Linked DNA regions of Homo sapiens. The protein of the gene in region 4 interacts with the protein of the main gene of each other region in a biochemical or structural test. Each region holds a gene or a part of one and is shown on either strand. Other genes may lie near its edges. The genes, in order: MYL9, AGAP2, PPM1F and PRKAA1.

Region 1 (5,052 bases), on a different chromosome or scaffold from region 4:
TCAGCTTCCATGGCCATCCCAGGGGGACACAGCAGGGTATGTGAGGCTCAGGGACATGAAAACTTCCTATTTCCAAGGCCACACCCTGCACCCAGGCCCCTGAACCCCTGAGACTTCATGACAGCCCTGGGTGTCCACCCAGAAAAACATGCACTGTGTTTGTAGCTCATATCCGTGGGTCTGCAGGTGAGTCACACCCTTATCTTCAAGTTAAAAACAAGAGCAGCAAATATAATAATAAGAAGAAGCCCTGCAGGTATTATCTTAAATCTCAAAGCAATCCTATTGAACAGATACAATTATTCCCACTTTACAAACAAGGAAACTGAGGCTCAGAGAGGTTAAGTAATTTACCCAAGGTCACACAGCTACCAAGTAGTGGGGCTGCAATAGAAACCCAGCAGTTGATTCCAGTCCATAGGCCTGTGCCAGTCATTGTTATGAGCCTTTTGCAACTACTGTCTTCACAATTCCCCTAAGAGATGGGGAAAACCAAGGTGCACAGCTGGGATCCAAACCCAGGCCTGTCTGACAGCAAAGCACTGTGTCTGGACTTTGGAGTTAGGCTGCCTGGGTTCAAATGCCAGGTCTACTCAAGTCTCCTCCTTACTTGCTGTCTGACCCTGGACAAGTCACCTGGCCTCTCTGTGCCTCAGCTTCCATACCTGTGAAGTGGGTAAGAATGCTGACTTCACAGGGTGGTGAAAGTTAAATGCAATAAGGCACGTGGTCGACCAGCCACAGCGAGCAGTCTGCAGAGGGTTGTTCTTATTACACTTTAGTGAGCACTGCCGGCTGCTGACATCCAGGCCACAGGAGGAAACTGGTGGGAGCAGCCAGGGACTCCGGGCGCCCACTGCTGTGGCTGCGCTAGAGCCATGCTTTCCAGTTCACAAAACCCACTACCTCCCGTCTCACACGGAGCGGTGAAGGGCAGGGGTGGGGGACGGGGGTGCAAGTTGTCCCAGCTGGGGACAGAGGGCCCAGGACCACAGGCTGGAACACCCCACCTGCCACAGGGAAGAACCCCACAGACGAATACCTGGAGGGCATGATGAGCGAGGCCCCGGGGCCCATCAACTTCACCATGTTCCTCACCATGTTTGGGGAGAAGCTGAACGGCACGGACCCCGAGGATGTGATTCGCAACGCCTTTGCCTGCTTCGACGAGGAAGCCTCAGGTCCGTGGCGCCCCCTACCACCACTCTGCATGCAAGTGGAACAGGGCCCAGGCATTCAGTGCCTCTGCCCCTAAGGGCCAGAACAGACATCACCCATCTCCCAGGTTCTGTCACCAGAACTATAAAAGCCAGGCCACCTCCTTATTGTCGCCGCAAAGGCTAGGCCAGAACAGCCCATGCCCCAAGACTCCTGCCTTCGTGATCTCCCCCGCTGGCCCAATGCACATTCTCCATCTGTTTTAGACCTTTCCAGAAATCAAACCATTTCATGCCTTTCTTGCCAAGAAGGTATAGAAACTGGCCCCCCTCCTCGGATCTCCTAACGGATATTCCATCCCTCAGCTCATTTTTCCCAGGGACATGTCAGGGTGATGATGGCCATGGTAACATGGCCATGGGCCCGCACGGGCCTGACTACCTTCACGGTCCCTCACTGCAATGGCATACGTTCATCCCTGTTTTCTAGATTAAACAGGCACACGGAGGTTAAGGACCTTGCCCAAAGTCACATAGCTAGGGAGAATGGGAATCAGCACTGCAACTCAGGCAGTGGAACTCCAGAGCTCACGCTTAAAACAGGGCACACCCAACACCATCTGTGTGCACAGCCTCAAGTTCCCCAAGTGACACCTCGGAGACAGTCCCACTGCACAACTCCTCCCCTCAGGACCCTGGCACCCCTTCACGTGGGATCCGACACCCCTTCACGTGCACCCCCACACCCCTCCTGCCACGTCCTCATTCCTCAGACTGACCAGAGACTAAGATTGTATCTTCCCAGCCCCTCTAGGTCTGCAAGAGCTGCCAGGGGGCTGAGGGATGGGGCTGCTGTGTATGTCTCAGCCCAAGTTCCTGCTCTCACCCACCCTGCCCCTGCCCGCAGGTTTCATCCATGAGGACCACCTCCGGGAGCTGCTCACCACCATGGGTGACCGCTTCACAGATGAGGAAGTGGACGAGATGTACCGGGAGGCACCCATTGATAAGAAAGGCAACTTCAACTACGTGGAGTTCACCCGCATCCTCAAACATGGCGCCAAGGATAAAGACGACTAGGCCACCCCAGCCCCCTGACACCCCAGCCCCCGCCAGTCACCCCTCCCCGCACACACCCGTCCATACCAGCTCCCTGCCCATGACCCTCGCTCAGGGATCCCCCTTTGAGGGGTTAGGGTCCCAGTTCCCAGTGGAAGAAACAGGCCAGGAGAAGTGCGTGCCGAGCTGAGGCAGATGTTCCCACAGTGACCCCAGAGCCCTGGGCTATAGTCTCTGACCCCTCCAAGGAAAGACCACCTTCTGGGGACATGGGCTGGAGGGCAGGACCTAGAGGCACCAAGGGAAGGCCCCATTCCGGGGCTGTTCCCCGAGGAGGAAGGGAAGGGGCTCTGTGTGCCCCCCAGGAGGAAGAGGCCCTGAGTCCTGGGATCAGACACCCCTTCACGTGTATCCCCACACAAATGCAAGCTCACCAAGGTCCCCTCTCAGTCCCCTTCCCTACACCCTGACCGGCCACTGCCGCACACCCACCCAGAGCACGCCACCCGCCATGGGAGTGTGCTCAGGAGTCGCGGGCAGCGTGGACATCTGTCCCAGAGGGGGCAGAATCTCCAATAGAGGACTGAGCACTGCTTCTGGTCTGTGTGTCTGTGGCTGGGGTGAAGTAAGGGGACCCCGGGCCTGAAACCCTCTCCCACCTTCTCCTGCCATCTCCAGTTACTGCCCTGCTCCTCCCACCCTGGCCCAGGGAAGGACTGGGTGTCCTCCGGCCATATGGTCCCTGAAGCCTCTAGGGACCAGAGTCCCTAGTAAGTGGGCTCTGTGCTCAGCTGAGACCAGCAGGGGACAGGGGACGGAGGGAATGGGCCTCATGGCCTTCTCAGGGCTTGTGGGAAAGGGAGGACCATGGGAATCACCACAGCCAATCCCGTGGAGGGTTCCAGGCCTCTTGGGGGGCAGAGGTCAGGCCACACAGCCCTCAGGACTAAAGCTCCGGGTTCCAGAAGAACAGGGAGGCTCCAACAGTGATGAGGCAGGCGTCCCAGCAGCTCAGGGTTGGAGGTGGGAATGAGGGGTTTCCCAGCCCCAGGCAGGTGGAGGGCGAGTTCAGCCCCAGGACCAACAGCATGGGGGCCACAGCTTTCCATGTCCCTGTGTACGCAGGGCAGGCAGGGCCGGGACCCCTGCTACTGGTGGATGATGGGGACACTGATGGCAGTGCCTGGGGCCTAAGAGGGGCAGAAAGAGCGCTGAATGACTGAGCAGAGAGTCCAGAGGGGCATGGACTGCCTGGGTCACCCAATAGGCCTAGGGAAGAGTGAGGGCCGGACCCACCCCACCTGACCCCAGCGAGTGGACCCAGCTTGGTCCTGAGGCCTTCTCCAGAGGTCACCCAGCGCAGGCAGCCGCAGCACTCAGCAAAGGTCCCAGATCAGGGCCAAGGGGGAGCTGAGCACCAGGGGACCCTGTGCCTGACCAGGAGGCCCTAACCTCCTGCAGGCCTCAACGCCAGGCCCTGCTCAGAGCTCGGCTGAAACTCCTCATCCTGGCTCCAAACAGAGGCCCAAAAGTCCCTGGTATCAACTCCAGAAGGGGCGAGACCCGAACAAGTTCCAAACCAGGCCCAAATAGTATCCCAAACTCAGTCCCAAACACATTCTCACCCCCGGCAGCAGGCTGCAGGCCTCCAGCTACACACACGGCCCTGGGCAACTCTCAGTCTGGCCACCCATTCGATGCTGCCAGCCCCAAGGGTGTGGGAGGGGGGTCTCAGAGTGTCCCAGGGTACTGGCCACACATGCCCGACACCAGGGTCATAAGGTCCTCTCAGCAGAGCCACTGCAGCACCAAAGGCATTTCTGGAAGGAGGCAAGGACGCGTCATCTAGATGTCAAGCCCCAGCGTGCGATTCTGTCACAGTTCACCCCACCTTCACCCCGAGACGGAAGACGGAAGAGCTTCGCACACAGGCGGGAAGAGGTCAGGACCAGTCCAGCCTCACTGGCTTCAGAACTGGCCTGGGGGCTACCTTGACCCACAGGAAGGGAAGAGGAACGTGCTCTGGGCAGGGCAAGGCAGGACCTGCAGCACCCACAGACCAGCAGTAAAGGACCCCCGGAACTTTCCAAGTCTAGCACAAAACCCAGAAGCCACAAAGGAAAATACTGGCAGATTTAAATGCATGAAGTCAACATTCTTTTTGTAGAGCTAAAGAAACCATAAGCAAAATTAAAAGCCAAATGCATTCTGGGAGGAAATACCTGCAGCATATTTAACAAAACAAGAGTTAACACTAATCTATATAAAGCTTCAGTAATTGAATCAGAAAAAGACAACGCCGTAGGAAAAAAATGGTAACATGAAAAGGAATCTCAGAAGAAATGCATATACTTATTTTTTTCTTTTTTTTTTGAGACAGAGTCTCGCTCTTTCTCCCAGGCTGGAGTGCAGTGGCGTGATCTCGGCTCACTGCAACCTCCGCCTCCCGGGTTCAAGTGATTCTCCTGCCTCAACCTCCCAAGTAGCTGGGACTACAGGTGTGCGCCACCACGCCCAGCTAATTTTTGTATATTTAGTAGAGACAGGGTTTCACCATGTTCGCCAGATGGTCTCCATCTCTTGACCTTGTGATCCACCCACCTTAGCCTCCCAAAGTGCTGGGATTACAGGGGTGGGCCACCACGCCCGGCCAAAATACATACACTTAATAAGAACATTTTAAATACTCACCAAATACATTTTTAAGTGCTCAACATCATTGTAAAACTGTAAAATTTTCTATTTTTTCCTAGTATTTGTCTAGCTTTTTCAGACTGGGTCTTTCTGTTGCTCAGGCTGGAGTGCAGTGGTGTGATCATAGGTCCCTGCAGCCTAG
Region 2 (5,598 bases), on a different chromosome or scaffold from region 4:
TGGTGTTGGGATTTGTTGTGAGGTTTGCTGACACCTTGACCATTTTTCACTGGCTGGAAATGAAAGGAACTTCCCACTTGCTCTTTGAAGGCAATTTCATTCTCTCCAGGGTCCTTATTTCCTTCCCATATTCTCTCACACTCCCAAACTTCTGAAGAAGGGAGCAAACTTTGGCCACGAGGAAGGAGTGGAGCTGAAATAAGAGAGTCCAGGGTCTTGGAGGTGAAGGGGGAACGGCCAGGTCCTCTAGTCCAATCTTCTTTGCTACCTCCCCCCTCTTGTCGCTTTGCCCAGACCACACACCTGCCTCTGTACTTGTCACTGCACCTGCACTGTTGAATCCACCTTTCCTGGGTCACGCCGCTGTGCTGGGTGGTCACAGCCTAGGACCCTGTAGAGCCGCAGCCTCCATGTGAACTGGATTCAGGTCTGGTGCTGTGTCCTCAGTTCAGTGGCACACTTGCAGCTGAACCTCTTGGGGCTGGTGGGCACCAAGGGTCAGAAGCAATTCTACCCAAAGATGCTGGTGCTACCAACTAACTCCTCAAGGTAGATAACAACATATGGCTGTGCCCAACCTGCACTGGCTGCTGACCCAACCCTACCCTGTCCAGCCCCTCTACCTGAGTAAACACTTTCAGCTGCCCTCGAGAAATGGTAGGATTGGCTATGTGCTGAGCCTAGTGGCACTGCAGCTCATGGAGGCAGCACCGGCTTCAGGCCGCTGTGGCCTTGGTGGTCCCTTTGATGGCACGGAGGTGGATAAATGCCTGCATCAGCTGACACTGAGTTTGTGGACACCAGGGACCTCTGCAGCTAGCTGGGAAATCTTTCCCAGGAGGTCTCCCACCCCTTCCCTCTGGAACACCCCCTGACGAGGCCAGGGGAGGAACCCCTACTCTATGTTCTACTCTGGTACCTAGTGCTCACGGTGAGCAGGCTGGCTCGGGGCAGCCCTCCTCAGAGCTGGAGCGCCTTTCAGGTGCCCTCTGAACAGATACTGTTCAGAATACAGATAAACAGATGCCACCAAGGTCCCCTAGCTGTGCAGTGGAGGGGCAGGTTTCAAAATCAGATCTGTCTCCAAAGTTCCTGCTCTTAAACAAAGCTGTCCCATCTTCCCACCCCTCTCCATGGGCCTGTCCTCTCCTCTAAGTACCATATCCCAACTCTCCCAGGACTGGCATCATCTTAAGAGTCAGTGCCTTCTCTGTTCCCAGGGTCCCCACTGACTCCAACCTGCCCACGTCCTCCACTACATGAACCCAGAACTGTTGTACATGATGGAACCACCTCCATGCCCATGGGTACTGTCCTGCCACCAGCCCCAGTGGGAGGCACCTCTGCCTGTCCCTGTCCAACCCCAGTACCCCATCTTGACCAAGGCCATGCCCTGACCTGCCTCCAAGAACAGACCAGCAGCTCACCCCCTAGACAAAATCACTTCCTCTTTAATTGCTGTTGAAGAAGATTCACACCACTGCCTCCAAGGAGATGGGGGGGCATTTCCCCCTTGCCCCCACCTCTCTCCCCTCCCCAATTACCTGGTCCTTTGCAAACTATTTTAGCCAGAAAAAAAAAAAAAAAAAAAGACCGGAAACCACTGACACAGACAGCCCAAGGGCTGGGTTGGCTGAGGGAGGCAGGGCTGGGCCAGGTAAGTCCGCCCTATCACCCAGTTTGTGGGGAAGGGGCAGGGGGCCTGGAAACCCTCCCAGCCACCTCGAATCCTCTCAGCCCTGGCTGGGAGAGGTCACGGGGGTGAGGAATGGCTCTGGAGCTGCTCCAGTGGGAGGGAGGGGCTGGACAGAAAGAATAATGGGGGAGGGGTCCCACTGTAGGGGTGCCCCCTACCCCAGATCACCACGGGCGCTGCACAGTCACAGGTACGCAGTCACGGTCACAGACACAACCCGAGAGCACCCCCACCCCAACCCACCCCCTGCCCACCCTGGGCTTCCCCTACCCCAAAACGCCCTCCCCACGCCCCTGCCCGCCCCCATCCCCATGTTGGGGAACAAAGCAATAAATTACAAGGCCCCCGCAGCCCTCTTAGCCCGCTCCTGCTCCATCCCTTCTCCCTCCCAAGATAGTAGTGGGAGGGACCCAGGCTCTTGGTTCCCCCCGGACTCTTTAGCTTCCACCCATGGGTAGGTGTAGGGGACGTCCTGGTTTCCACTACTCACGGTCCCTTTCACGGAAAGGGTTGGGAACCCCCACCCCCATGAGCAGCAGGGGTCCTGCCCCTCGCTGCCCTTGCCCCCTTCACTGGGCAGTGAGATGAGCATGGAAGGGGTAGGGTTTCCGTATTGGCCCCAAGTCCCGGGGCTAGCCCTCCCATGTACTAAACCCTCCCTCTGGCGTGGCGTCGCCCCAGGAGCCAGCCTGGGTATGGGCTCCCGCCCTGGGATTGTTGAGCTCGGGCAGGACCGGGTCTTCTTTCCGCCCCTAGGGGGCACAAGCGGGCATGTCCAAGCGCCTAGGAGCCCGTACCGCTGGGGACCTCCCCTTCCGCGAACCCCGAGCGGGTAGACCCAGAGCAATCCGAGTGTGGAAACAATGGAGAGGGGGCGTGTTGAGCTGGGGTCTCCATGCCTCGTTGGGGAGAGGGAGGTGAGTTTGTGTCTTCTGGAAGGCGTGGGGGCTGTGCCCTCGTGGGGGTAGGAAGTGCTCCCGTGGGGCGGGGTGCGGATCGGAGAGGTGAGTGGGTGCGTCTGTCCAGCGGTCCGCCCGGTGTGGTCGTGCCCGGCCCGCGTGGGGATGGGGGTGTCTCTCCCGCTGGGCAACTATACCAGCGCAACCGGGGCGTCGGCGCGGCCCACGCTAGCGGCGCTGCTCCGGCGGCGGGGGCTGGGCGTGGCGGTGATGCTGGGCGTGGTGGCCGCGCTGGGCGTGGTGGCCGCGCTGCCGCCCTCACCCGGGCAGCCGTGCTGGAGAAGGATGTCGGCGCACAGCTGGCTTCCAGCCTGGCGGGCGTAGAACAGCGCCGTGCGGCCCTGGGCGTCACGGGCCGCCACGTCCGCGCCGTACTAGAGGGCGGAAACGGCCGCGTGACCGCGCGTCCCCAGGGCGCCCACACCCGGCGCCGCCTCCCCCACATGGCCAAGCCTACTTCCGGGGTCCCTCTGGGAATTTCGGGCTTTCCCGCGCCAGGCGTTTTCCGAGATGAAGCCTCAAAGACCCCCTTTCCTCCCCCCAGCTCACGTACCCACAGCAGCAGTTGCGTGATGACGACGTGGGCGAGCTCGGCCGCCAGGTGGAGTGGGGAGCGCAGCTGTGGGTCCTCTACGCTGGTGTCGAGCGGCCCGTGTCGCGCATGGGCCAAAAGCAGGAGAACGGTAGCCACGTCCTGGGCCTGCACGGCGGCCCACAGCTGGCGGCCCAGCGGCTCCTCCGAGGTGCTCAGCGGCGCCAGGAACAGTAGCTGCTCGTACTTGGCGCGAATCCACGACTCGCGCTCCTCCCTGCAAGACCAGGGATCAACGGAAAAGGCTCTAGGGACCCCCAGCCAGGACTTCTGCCCCTACCCACGGGACCGTCTCAGGTTCGCACACCCTCAGCAACCCTCCCCCCGCTCTGTTCCCTCACGCTTACCGCGAAGAGTCCCGCGAGGGCTTGGCACGGCCTCGCGTGTCGCTTTCCCACACGCGGTTGGCCGTGTCGTTGCCAATAGCCGTCAGCACCAGGGTCAGCTCCCGTGGCCAGTCGTCCAAGTCCAGCGAGCGAACGCGGGACAGGTGTGTGCCCAGGTTGCGGTGGATGCCAGAACACTCGATGCAGATGAGGGCGCCCAGGTTCAAGCTGGCCCACGTGGGGTCTGCGGAAGGAGCGTAGAGGTCGGCTCCCAGCCGGGCAGCACAGGCACCCCGGCATTCACTACACTCCCTAGCCCCTCCGCTGCCTCCTGGCACTCACTGGGGGCCCCGCAGTCCACGCAGATTGAATTCCCCTTGGCGTTCCGGATCGCCTGGATGGCCACGGCCTCGCTTTGGCTGTCTGTGCGCAGCTGCAGAGAGGGTTTGGGTTGGCACTGACTCTGCCTCCAAGCCCCACCTCCTTCTCAGACACCTCTGCTCTCCTCTCACACGACTTCGGCCGTGTCGTTGCCAATGGCCGTCAGCACCAGGGTCAGTTCCTGCGGCCAGTCCTCCACTCCACCTCAAACTCTTACCTTGACCTTGCTGCTCTCACAGCATTGCAGACTGGCTAGGATCTGACTCTCGATGGCCTGGACCCAGGCATCCCGCTCCTCAAAACTGGCTGCCTCAAAGTGCCACGTCTGACCCGTGCTGGACACGATCAGGAACTCAAAGTTTTCCTCTGAGTGGGGGATGGGATGGGGTCATTAAGGGACAGAGTTCAAGCAGGGGCTGCCTTTCCCAAGACCGTCCTCCCTGATGTCCATCCCGAGCCCCTGGGAGTGGGGCAGTGGGGGTAGGGAAAGCAGAGGGTGGGGGGCAGCAGGAAGCCCGAGCACATGCAGGGGAAGGCGGGGGCACCCCCACCCTTCTGCACCCCAGCTGAGCGCCCCTCCCGGCTCCCCACTTGTTACCTGCTTTATAAATATTTCTTAAACTACCAAAGGATTTTAGTTTCCACATTTTGCGCTTGGCTGGTTTCCCGAAGCGAAGGAGATAGAGATAGAATGGAGAGCAGAACAGAGAAAGAGAGACCAAGAAAGAAGGAGAAAAAGACAGGTAGATGGAGAGATGGAGAGAGATAGTGACAGAGTGCCAGAGACAAAGCAGGACAGACAGATGGGGAGAGAAAGCAGAACTAAAGTCAGTGGCCCCGGAGCAGAGTGGAACAGAAGCCAAGAGCCATGAGAGTAGGCAGATCTGGAACCTGGGTCTGAGCACCCGGCAGAGAGCAGGGGCAGCAGGGATGGGTTATCAAGACCAGCGAGGAGCTGGACCTCTGGGAGAAGAAGGGAGGGTCAGGATCTGAGTGAACACGGGGGAAGGGGACAGAAGCTGGGGCGCAGGGCTGAGATGAGAGGGCCCTGGGGCTGGTGGCGGTGGGGGTGCGGGGAATCACTGAGGGACAAGAATGGGGATCACTATGGTCAAGGGCTGTTGGGGAGCACTTGGCAATAGAAAGTTATCGGGAGAAGGCCGGGCACGGTGACTCATGCCTGTAATCCCCACCGCCTGTAATCCCAGCACTTTGGGAGGCCGAGGCGGGCAGATCACGAGGTCAGGAGATCAAGACCATCCTGGCTAACACAGTGAAACCCAGTCTCTACTAAAAAATACAAAAAATTAGCCGGGCATGGTGGCAAGTGCCTGTAGTCCCAGCTACTTGGAAGGCTGAGGCAGGAGAATGGTGTGAACCCGGGAGGCAGAGCTTGCAGTGAGCCGAGATCGCACCACTGTACTCCAGCCTGGGTGACAGAGTGAGACTCCATCTCAAAAAAAAAAAAAAAAAAGAAAAGAAAAAAAAAAGAAAGAAAGTTATTGGGAGAAGGGGCTGGGTGGTCACAGAATCCAGGATCTGGGGAATCAGTGGGAGATGCTGAGATAAGGGGCTGAATCACTGGGGATCAGCGGGGCTGCCGGGTGCAGGGGCTGGGGTGGTAAGTGGAGTTGAGGGAAGGAA
Region 3 (5,052 bases), on a different chromosome or scaffold from region 4:
CCGGCACTGACCGCATGCTGAGACAATGAGATGCAGGCTGGACCCACTTTTTTTTTTTTTTTTGAGATGGAGTTTCGCTCTTGTCGCCCAGGCTGCAGTGCAATGGTGCAATCTTGGCTCACCGCAACCTCCACCTCCAGGGTTCAGGTGATCCTGCTGCCTCAGCATCCCAAGTAGCTGCGATTACAGGCAGGCACCACCACGCCCGGCTAATGTTTTTTGTATTTTTAGTAGAGATGGGGTTTCACCATGTTGGTCAGGCTGGTCTCGAACTCCTGACCTCAGGTGATCCACCCGCCTTGGCCTCCCAAAGTGCTGGGATTACAGGCGTGAGCCACCGCGCCCAGCTACTTTTTTTTTTTTTTTTGAGACACAGTCTGGCTCTGTTGCCCAGGCTGGAGTGCAGTGGCACGATCTCCGCTTACTGTAACCTCCGCCTCTGGGTTCAAGCACTTCTCCTCCCTCAGCCTCCCAAGTAACTGAGATTACAGGCGCGTGCCACCACACCTGGCTAACTTTGTATTTTTTGTAGAGAAGGGGTTTCACCATGTTGGCCAGGCTGGTCTCGAACTCCCGATCTCAGGTGATCCGCCCACCTTGGCCTCCCAAAGTGCTGGGATTACAGGCGTGAGCCAGCATGCCCAGCCAGACCCATTACTTTTTAAAATTTTTATTTATTTTTATTATTATTTTTTGAGACAGAGTTTTCCTCGTTATCCAGGCTGGAGTGGAGTGGCGCGATCTCAGCTCACTGCAACCTCCGCCTTCTGGGTTCAAGTGATTCTCCTGCCTCAGCCTTCTGAATAGCTGGAATTACAGGGGCTCACTACCATGCCTGGCTAATTTTTTGTATTTTTTTTTTAGTAGACATGGGGTTTCATCAGGCTGGTCTCGAACTCCCGACCTCAGGTGATCCACCCACCTCGGCCTCCCAAAGTGCTGGGATTACAGGCGTGAGCCACCGCGCCCAGCGAACCCACTTTTTTCCCAAAAGAGAAAAAAGGATTGTCAGCATGAACGCGGGAGGAGGATAAACCTCATTTCCGGAATATTGGAAGCTCTACTTCCAGCCCATAGGGTGGTGAGCCACAGGTTTCTATGAGATTTGTAGGAGCTGTTTTAGGTGAGATAATAACATACAGTGTAACTTACACTCAGACACTGGTGCTGCAGTCTCTGAATCTGCCCTGTTCCCTTCACACTACGAGGGTATCACCCCAGTGCATGACAAATCCCCCTCGGCCCATCACACTGCCTCCCTGAACCCCTGGTGAGCCGCGGGCCACACTCGAGGCCTGGGCTTCCGAGAGACCTTCTCCCACTTGGGTCGGCCTCTTTGGCTCTCACCGATGGCTCTGGAGACGGCCAGGGTCCCGTTGACTCTCCAGCAGTCCATGTGAGACACAAAGCCACCCAATGCTTCAATGCGCGCCTTCTCATCCTGCAGAAACACAGCCAGAGTTGGGGGCAGGGCCGGGGGGATGGGGCGTGAAGCCCCCTGCTGCTACCTGAGCAGAGGCACAGCTGCTTCTAAGACAGCAGCATTCAAAGCCGCAGCACTGGAACAAAGCCAGGAGGCTCAGAGATGCACCCAAACGAGGCTCATCAAAAACAGTGAGAAATTATACACAACCCACAAGTCCTTTAGTTGCAGGAATGGTGAAATGAACGGACCACCTGAGGCCGCCTAGCGGTGCCTGCGCCCCTGGGCAGCATTCTGGGTCAGGGAGGCACTCACGAGGCTTGCGAGCCCGACACAGACAGCAGATCCTTCTGCTTCCCTGTCTCTAGCTCGGGGACACCGTCTCTGCCCTGAAAGCTGCTGGGCCAAGATGGAGCATGTGACGTGAGTGGTCACACAGCAGGGAAGCCTGAGCGAGGCCCTGACGGCAGCCTGTGCCCGCCCAGTTCTTTTTTTTTTTTTTTTTTGAGACAGAGTCTCGCTCTGTCACCTGGCTGGAGTGAAGTGGCACGATCTTGGCTCACTACAACCTCTGCCTCCTGGGTTCAAGTGATTCTCCTGCCTCAGCCTCCTGAGTAGCTGTGACTACAGGGGCGTGCCACCATGCCCAGCTAATTTTTTTGTGTTTTTAATGGAGACAGGGTTTCTCAAAGTTGGCCAGACTGGTCTCGATCTCCTGACCTCATGATCCACCCTCCTCGGCTTCCCAAAGTGCTGGGATTACAGGTGTGAGCCACCGCGCCTGGCCTAGTTCTTGTCCTCCTCTACCCAAGCTCAGCACAGGCACAGTCTCCACTCAGCTGGGGACCACAACACCCCAGGCCTGGGTTCCTCCAGGGACAGGACAGAGGCTTGGTCCACCCACAAGTCCTCTAGAAACCTCTTTGGTCCTATCAGCCTCTGCCCAAAGGAGAGGCTGCCCCGATGAGAGCCTGCTGACTGAAGCCTGCACAACAGCATCCCTGACAGAGTGACGGAGGCACCCTGGGAGTGAGGCACCTCCCAAGTCTACTGGGGGAAGAGGGCATCCCTTACCGGTTTATCAGGTAAACCTCTTGACCCCACGCAGCACCAGCCCTTCTAGTCCCCAGGCACAGCACCAGCTGGGCATGAGAACTCTGATGCCCCAGGTGATGGTGTCCCCTAGACAGATTGGGATATCAGCCAATTCCCTCCCCAGAGCAGACGGACATGCACTGCGGGAGGCCTGGGGGAGGCAGCCCTCTCCAGATGCCTGCACCAAGGACCAGGCCTCTTTATGTGGCTCCCCTGCAGAGGGCATTGTGGTGGGAATGACATGGGTTTGCAGGAGTCCCGGCCTTCCTGGGCACTGCAGCCATGAGCCTGTGTGGGAACTGGACCAGTGCCTGGTAGGCTGGGTGCTCCTGTCCCAGCTGAGGTGGAGAATCAAGCCATGAAGGGGGCAGGAACAGGGACCTCAAGGCTCTCTCTGGGTCTAAGATCTGCCACCTCCGGGGTCTGAGCAGGGCAAGGGAAAGGCAAGGAGGACCAGGAAGGAGGGAAGAGCAGGAGACAGCCAAGAAGAGGGCAGGAGAAAGGGCACGGGGAGAGGCAGGTGGATGAACACAGAGTACGCACGAATGTTCACACATACATGTGCCCACACACACGCGTGAAGGCGCCTGCAGACGGCGAGGAGCTGCAGAGGAAGCAGCGCCTCCTCCCCTGTGCCTCAGAGGCGTTCCCTGGGGAGGGGCTGTGAGCGTGGGAGGCTCCAGGGAGAATGAGGAGCCTTTCTCTGCTTCTGTCTCCCACACACCCCAGCCCACTCCAGCCCCTCAATGTCCCAGAGGCAGGAATGTGGGCAGGTGATGGAGAATGAACGGCAATCTGCTTCCCATGCCCTCTGGAGGTGGCTCTCCCCCACAGGGGGCCATGCAGGCTAAGCTTAGAACCTTCCTACCTGAAGCCCCTCCCCACCACCAGGGATGGCTGTGGGACAGGGTGGAGCCAAAGGGCAGGAGGGCACAGGGGCTGTGCTGCTCCCCTGCAGCCTGTGATCCCCTCTCCTGCCATTCTGCACCCCCTGTGCTGGACAGGCTGCGCCGGCTCCCCGGGCTCGCCCCTCTAACCCTGGCCCTGAACCTGGGTCCTCCTCCCCTCCAGTGGCTCCCACCTCCGTCACACACTGGCCAGGCTCAGTCTGGTCCGGGACTAACATATCCCCAGGCTAAGGGGTCTTGTCCCATTCCCCCTGAGTCTCCTAGTCACTGATTCTTGATTCTGTTTTTTGTTTTGTTTTTTTTTTTTTTTTTTTTTTTTTTTTGGAGACAGGGTCTTGCTTTGTTGCCAAGGCTGGAGTGCAGTGTCATGAACATAGCTCACTGCAGCCTCGACCTCTAGGGCTCAAGCCATCTCCTGCCTTCGCCTCCCGACTGCCCAGCGCCCACCCCCTCAGCAGCTCTTCCCTCTGCTCCTCAAACCTCATCCTCTCCACCTGCCTGAAACAGCTTCCCAGGTCAAAGCTGGAGCCGGTGGCCTGTGGGTTCCTGTGAACAGCCATTTCCTGCTTCCTAGGAGTGCAGTGCTCCACACGGCCAGGCCGCAGCAGCGTCGCCTATGGCACTGCCATCCTCCTGGATGCCCAAGGCCCTCTGCGATGTCTCCACCTGCAGAGCCGGGACTCCTATCTCTCCCAGGCTGCCTGCCAGGCGTGCCAGCGTGACCTGTGACCTTGAGTGACTCTCACTGCCCTCCTGAACTCACTTTTGTGACCCAGCCCTCAACTTGTCCTCCAGTGGCCTGATCACTTCAGAAGCTTCTAGTGAGTCCTTACAGAGTTCCTCCCAGCCTGGGGCAGTCCAGCTTTTCCAGCTGAAGGAGCAGCAGGTGGGTGGTCTTCTCCCCTGCCCCGAGTCTTCTACCCACTGATTCTGGGGCTTGTTTTTGTTTTTTGAAGACAGGGTCTCACTCTGTTGCCAAGGCTGGAGTGCAGTGTCATGAACATAGCTCACTGCAGCCTCAACCTCTAGGGCTCAAGCCATCCTCCTGTCTCCTGAGGCTTGAGAGGTGGGAGGATCACTTGGGGCACACCTCCACACCTGGCCCTGATTCTGGCATAACCTGCCCTTTCCTCCTGGTCTCTCCCCTGGCCTGCAGGAATTGCAACTGCCTGAGATGCGGCTCCATTCCATTCATCTCTCTGCCTCATCCTGCCAGGTCCTTGCCCTCCTCCTGCTCCCCCATTAGACTTAGAGGCAGGAAGTGGGTCCTGTGTTATCTCACTGCCTCAACAAAGTATCTTGTGCAGAGTGGGCACTCAGTGTTTGGAGGCTGAACTGAGTGCAGAGGCAGGAGACTGTTCAGACAGCCGCAGAACAAGGCAGAGCACCACGCACTCCCCCCACGTACTCCTGGAAGCTGCTCTGGGCCGCTGCTGGACCCCCGTTGAAGCTCGCCAAGTTGAGGCCAGTTTCTTGCTCTTGTAACCGACATGATGCTTGTTTTTGTGGGAGAACCTTGGCCTGGATCTGTGATTAATTCTCTAGGGTGGAAGGCTGTGATCAGGATCACAGCAGGAGGGGCCAAGCCTACAGAGCATGGCGGCAGGAAAGGGGAGGTGGGGGGCA
Region 4 (5,052 bases):
TCCCGGGTTCAAGCGATTCTCCAGCCTCAGCCTCCCAAGTGGCTGGGATTATAGGCGCCCACCACTACGCCCAGCTATTTTTTTTTTGTATTTTTAGTAGAGATGGGGTTTCACCACGTCGGCCAGGTTAGTCTCGAACTCCTGACCTCAGGTGATCCACCCACCTCAGCCTCCCACAGTGCTGGGATTACAGGCATGAGCCACCATGCTTGGCCTAAGTTCGTAAGTATTTCTGTGTAAAACTGCAATTTCAGCTACATAGGTACTTTGTGAATGAATCATAGTAGAAGTTATTTAAAAATTCCTTTAAGTAAAAATTATAAACATGAACTAGAGCTATATATATCAGTGTGAATGAATCTTAAAAATATAAGGTTAGACCTCGAAAGCAAGTTGTATAAGAATATGTATAGTTTGCTGTTATTTATATAAATTTTAGAAACCTACAGAACCACTCATACAATGCTGGTAGAGTATAAATTGGTATCCTACCTCTACATGAGAGAGTGACAGCATTTATTAAAATTAACCTAACAATTCAACTTCTAGGAATTATTTTATAGATGTACTCGTGTATGAAATAATGGGTTATTCGCTGCCATATTGTTGTAAATATTAATACAAAACTTTCGAAGTAACCTTTCTAATAGTAATAGTTATGGTTTATCCATATAGTGAAATACCTTGCAAACATTAAGGAAGAAAAAGGGAGGAACTTTGTATATTTTAGAGAACAATTTCCAAGGTGTATTTTTAAGAGGAAAAAGTAGAACAGTGTGTTCAATATGCCTACCACTTATGTATAAAAGGCAGGGGCAAATCTGTATCTTAAATGTGACTGCTTTTATATATAGAGTATGTCTCTTTAAAGATACACACAAGACTGGTTACGTTAGTTGCTCAGTATAGGGGACTAGGTAAAGGAGGACATTGTGTTGCACCATAGATGCTTTTGTACTTTTGAACTGTGTGTATAGTGCAGGTATTGTGTTATCAAAATATATGCAATGACATTTGTAAAAATAAATATGAAAAATAATGTTACTATATTTTTTATGGATTCCTACCCATGTAAAAATATTTAAACGTGGGAAACACAAACACCAAATTCAGGATAGTGGTTACTTCTGAGGACAGATGAAGGATAAGGGAATCTGGGAGGAGTCATGCAGGGCTTGAGTTGTATTTGTAATGTTTTATTGCTTAAGCTGATGGTGGCTCATGGGTATTTGGAATGCCCTTGGTGTGCTTGAAATGTTTGTTTGCTTTCTTAAATTACGATCTATAGCTTTTAAAGCCCACCCTTCCCCAGGATTAAGCTATTTCCTTAACACGTTTTTATTCTTTCAATTTTAAAGTGGGAATGAAATGGTTAGGTGTCTAGAATATCTTTAGTAGATATTTCTATCTTTGCTGCTTCTCTGTCCTATTAAAATCCTCTGTTTCAAAGTATGATCTTGTTTCCCTTCAGGATTATATATCTAATTAGAAGAGCATTTGTTACAATGTTATGCAGTTAGACAAAGTTCCCTTTAGATAGCAATAGCATGGTTGTTAGCTAATATTTAGTTGACTAATCTGCTATTCTTGTGAGGGGGACATTGTGAATGCTGGTAATATTTGCTCTGAGTAATGTGCAAGTCTTCCGTGGCCAAAATATCTGTCTTCCGTTTCATTTAAAAGCAAAACCTTAGCACTATTCTAAAAACTGACAGTCTGAAGAATAAAGTTTGAATTTTGAAAAAGGGGGGAATCCCTTAGTAGTGCATATGCCTGACAGAGTCCATTTACTACATTCATTGATTGACTATGGAACAGCATTTAGTTTGGCTACAACTGAGTTTACTCACTGGGGAGAATATTTAGCCTGGTTTTGAGAAAACAGTTTAGTTTCTGATACCATGCCAAGCCCTTTGTCCCTCTCACTGCACAGTGATGGTGGGGAGAGTGGATAGGTCAAAAGACTTGGGAGTCGGAAGACCTGTCCCAACTTGATCACAATAGCTTTACTTCCACAACTTACAGAATCTCTTAGAGCCTCAGTTTCTTTATCTGTAAAAGACAATACCTCCATCATAGGTTTATGCTCAAATGTGATAATGTGAGTGTCTCCTAAGCTATTAGATGCCATATTTTAAAAAGTATTATGCTACTGAAGGCCGGGTGTGGTGGCTCACGCCTGTAATCCCAGCACTTTTGGGAGGCTAAGGCGGGCAGATCACGAGCTCAAGATATTGAGACCATCCTGGCCAACATGGTGAAACCCCATCTCTACTAAAAATACAAAAATCAGCTGGGTGTGGTGGCATGCGCCTGTTGTCCCAGCTACTCGGGAGGCTGAGGCAGGAGAATTGCTTGAACCCCGGAGGCAGAGGTTGCAGTGAGCCGAGATTGTGCCACTGCACTCCAGCCTGGCGACAGAGCGAGGCTCCATCTCAACAACAACAACAACAACAAAAAAAAAAAAAAAGAAAGAGTTGACTCCTGATAGACTATGAAGGCTGGGATACAAATTCAAAAAGCGGAAAACCACACGAGCTGGAACACTATAGGCTGGGAGCAAAAAGCCCTATCCTGCTAAATAACTCCCACTGCTGTCACTGTGTGAGGGTATAAGGAGCAGTTGATACTCATAAGTTAACATTTGTTTGGTTCCCAGTCTTCATGTACATGTGTTCCATTTAAGAAGTCATGATCATGTGTAGTACAATTAGAAAACCTGTTTTCAAAAAATATTACTTCTGTTAACTTGTTAATTTTAATGGTGAATATCATAGTTTAGAAAATCCACCCTCCTTTTCTTGTCAGGGACTGAGTGTGTGGTCCTGCTCCTGTTATGTATGGAGGCAAAGGGAAAGGGCTCCGGCCCCCTCAAAATCATGTCTTTGGTGCCAGCCGGTTCTGTTCTCAGTCACCTGGATACTGAACTTTCCTGAGCAGGGCAGAACTGAGATCCAGTGGGCTTCTCCCCAGGATGCTTACGCTTTTTCATTTGATTTCAGGTCTCCTCTTTCGCTTCCTATTGCAACCAATGAAGGCCATTCCTACCATAAGTAAATAAAAAAGAAAATCTATCTTTAATAAATAACAATTGTATATATTTATGGGGCACAATGTGATGTTTTGATACATGTATACATTCTGCACTGATCAAATCAGGCCAAGTAGTATATCCATCTCCTCAAATATTTATCATTTCTTTGTGGTGAGAACATTTAAAGTTCCCTTTTTTAACTCTTTTGAAAAATTAATATATTTACTGTAATCATGATGCTATGCAATACAACACCAGGATCCTGTTCCTCCTGACTGTAATTTTATGTAGCCATTGACCAATATCTTCCTTTTCCCCTCCAGCCCCACTTACCCCAGCTACTGGTAATCACCATTCTACTCTCTACTTCTGTGAGTTTGACTTTTTTAGATTCCAAATATAAGTGAGTCTCAGACACCTCTGACATACTGATTTCAATTCCTTTGGATATATACTCAGTAATGGGATTGCTGGATCATATAGTAATTCTATTTTTAGTTTTGTGAGGAACCTCTACACTGTTTTACAAAATGGCTGTATTTATAGTTTCACCAGCAGTGTATAAGTGTTCCATTTCTCTGTGACCTTGCTAACACTTATCTTTCACCTTTTTGATAATAGCCAGTCTAACAGGTGTGAGGTGATACCTTATTGTGGCTTTAATTTGCATTTCTCTTATGATTAGAGATGTTCAGCATTCTTTCATCTATCTGTTGGCCATTTGTTTGTCTTTTTTTTTATTTTTATTTTTGAGACAGTGTCTCACTCTGTTGCCCAGGCTGGAGTGCAGTGGCATGATCATGGCTCACTGCAGCCTTGACCTCCTGGGCTCAAGCGATCCTCCCACCTCTGCCTCCCAAGTAGCTGGGACTACAGGCATACACCACCACGCCTGGCTAATTTATGTATGTTTTATAGAGACAAGGTCTCACTGTGTTGCTTAGACTGGTCTTGTATTCTTGGGCTCAAGTGATCCACCCGCGTCGGCCTCCCAAAGTGCTGAGATTACAGGCATGAGCCACCATGCCTGGCCGGATATTAGCTATATATCTGATGCATGATTTGTAAATACGTTTTCTCAGTCTTTGGGTTGTCTCTTCACTCTATTTGTTTTTGCTTGTTTGTTTGTTTTTTTGAGATGCAGTCTCCCTCTGTCACCCAGGCTGGAGTGCAATGGCGTGATCTTGGCTCACTGCAGCGTCCGCCTCCCGGGTTCAAGCGATTCTTTTGCCTCAGCCTCATGAGTAGCTGGGACTACAGGTGTGCACCACTACGCTCAGCTAATTTTGTATTTTTAGTAGAGATAGGGCTTCACCATGTTGGTCAGGCTGGTCTCGAACTCCTGACCTTGTGATCCGCCTGCCTCGGCCTGCCAAAGTGTTGGGATTACGCGTCTGGCCTGTTTGTTTGTTTTTTGCTGTTCAGAAGCTTTTTAGTTTGATGTCATCCCATTTGTTTATTATTGCTTTTGTTGCCTGTGCATTAGGGGATCATATACAAGAAATGATTGCCCAAACCTGTGTCATGGAGCTTCTCGCCTAAGTTTTCTTCTAGTAGATTTGTAATTTCAGGTCCTAAATTTAATCCATTTTAAGTTGATACTTGTTAAGGGGTGAGATAAGGGTCCATTTCCATTCTTCTGTATGTGGCTATCCAGTTTTCCAAATGACATTATTGAAGAGACTGTCCTTTCCACATTGTGTAGTCTTGGCACCTTTGTCAAAAATCCATTGATTATAGATATATGCATTTATTCTGGGCTATCCATCCTATTCCATTGGTGGACATGTCTGTTTTTATGTCAGTGCCGTGCTGTTTTAATTACTATAGGTTTGTAATATATTTTCAAACATGGTAGTGTGATGCCTCCAGCTTTGTTCTCTTTGGACCTAAAGTCTATTTTGTCTGAAATAAATATAGCTATCTCTGTTCTCTTTTTGTTTGCATTTGTATGGAATATCTTTTTCAGTCCCTTCATTTTCAGTCTATGAGTGTCCTTTATGGTGAAGTGAGTCTCT

The links.
Region 1: of the proteins of PRKAA1 (region 4) and MYL9, one has a biochemical effect on the other in vitro, tested with the Homo sapiens proteins (one study listed by IntAct).
Region 2: the proteins of PRKAA1 (region 4) and AGAP2 form a complex in vitro, tested with the Homo sapiens proteins (one study listed by BioGRID).
Region 3: of the proteins of PRKAA1 (region 4) and PPM1F, one has a biochemical effect on the other in vitro, tested with the Homo sapiens proteins (one study listed by BioGRID).

Annotation. Positions count from the first base shown.
Region 1 is NC_000020.11:36,547,013-36,552,064, forward strand, and holds the end of MYL9 (myosin regulatory light polypeptide 9), read left to right. Parts: intron 1-1,019; coding exon 1,020-1,181; intron 1,182-2,064; coding exon 2,065-2,237; 3' UTR 2,238-4,435; downstream 4,436-5,052. UniProt on the Homo sapiens protein: Myosin regulatory subunit that plays an important role in regulation of both smooth muscle and nonmuscle cell contractile activity via its phosphorylation. Implicated in cytokinesis, receptor capping, and cell locomotion.
Region 2 is NC_000012.12:57,723,766-57,729,363, forward strand, and holds the end of AGAP2 (arf-GAP with GTPase, ANK repeat and PH domain-containing protein 2), read right to left. Parts: intron 4,613-5,598; coding exon 4,553-4,612; exon of another isoform or gene 4,321-4,552; coding exon 4,172-4,320; exon of another isoform or gene 4,007-4,171; coding exon 3,916-4,006; exon of another isoform or gene 3,818-3,915; coding exon 3,595-3,817; exon of another isoform or gene 3,465-3,594; coding exon 3,209-3,464; exon of another isoform or gene 3,200-3,208; intron 3,030-3,199; coding exon 2,787-3,029; 3' UTR 1,432-2,786; downstream 1-1,431. UniProt on the Homo sapiens protein: GTPase-activating protein (GAP) for ARF1 and ARF5, which also shows strong GTPase activity. Isoform 1 participates in the prevention of neuronal apoptosis by enhancing PI3 kinase activity.
Region 3 is NC_000022.11:21,924,222-21,929,273, forward strand, and holds part of PPM1F (protein phosphatase 1F), read right to left. Parts: intron 1,442-5,052; coding exon 1,348-1,441; intron 1-1,347. UniProt on the Homo sapiens protein: Dephosphorylates and concomitantly deactivates CaM-kinase II activated upon autophosphorylation, and CaM-kinases IV and I activated upon phosphorylation by CaM-kinase kinase. Promotes apoptosis.
Region 4 is NC_000005.10:40,787,944-40,792,995, reverse strand, and holds part of PRKAA1 (5'-AMP-activated protein kinase catalytic subunit alpha-1), read left to right. Parts: intron 1-2,791; exon of another isoform or gene 2,792-2,925; intron 2,926-2,962; exon of another isoform or gene 2,963-3,044; intron 3,045-5,052. UniProt on the Homo sapiens protein: Catalytic subunit of AMP-activated protein kinase (AMPK), an energy sensor protein kinase that plays a key role in regulating cellular energy metabolism.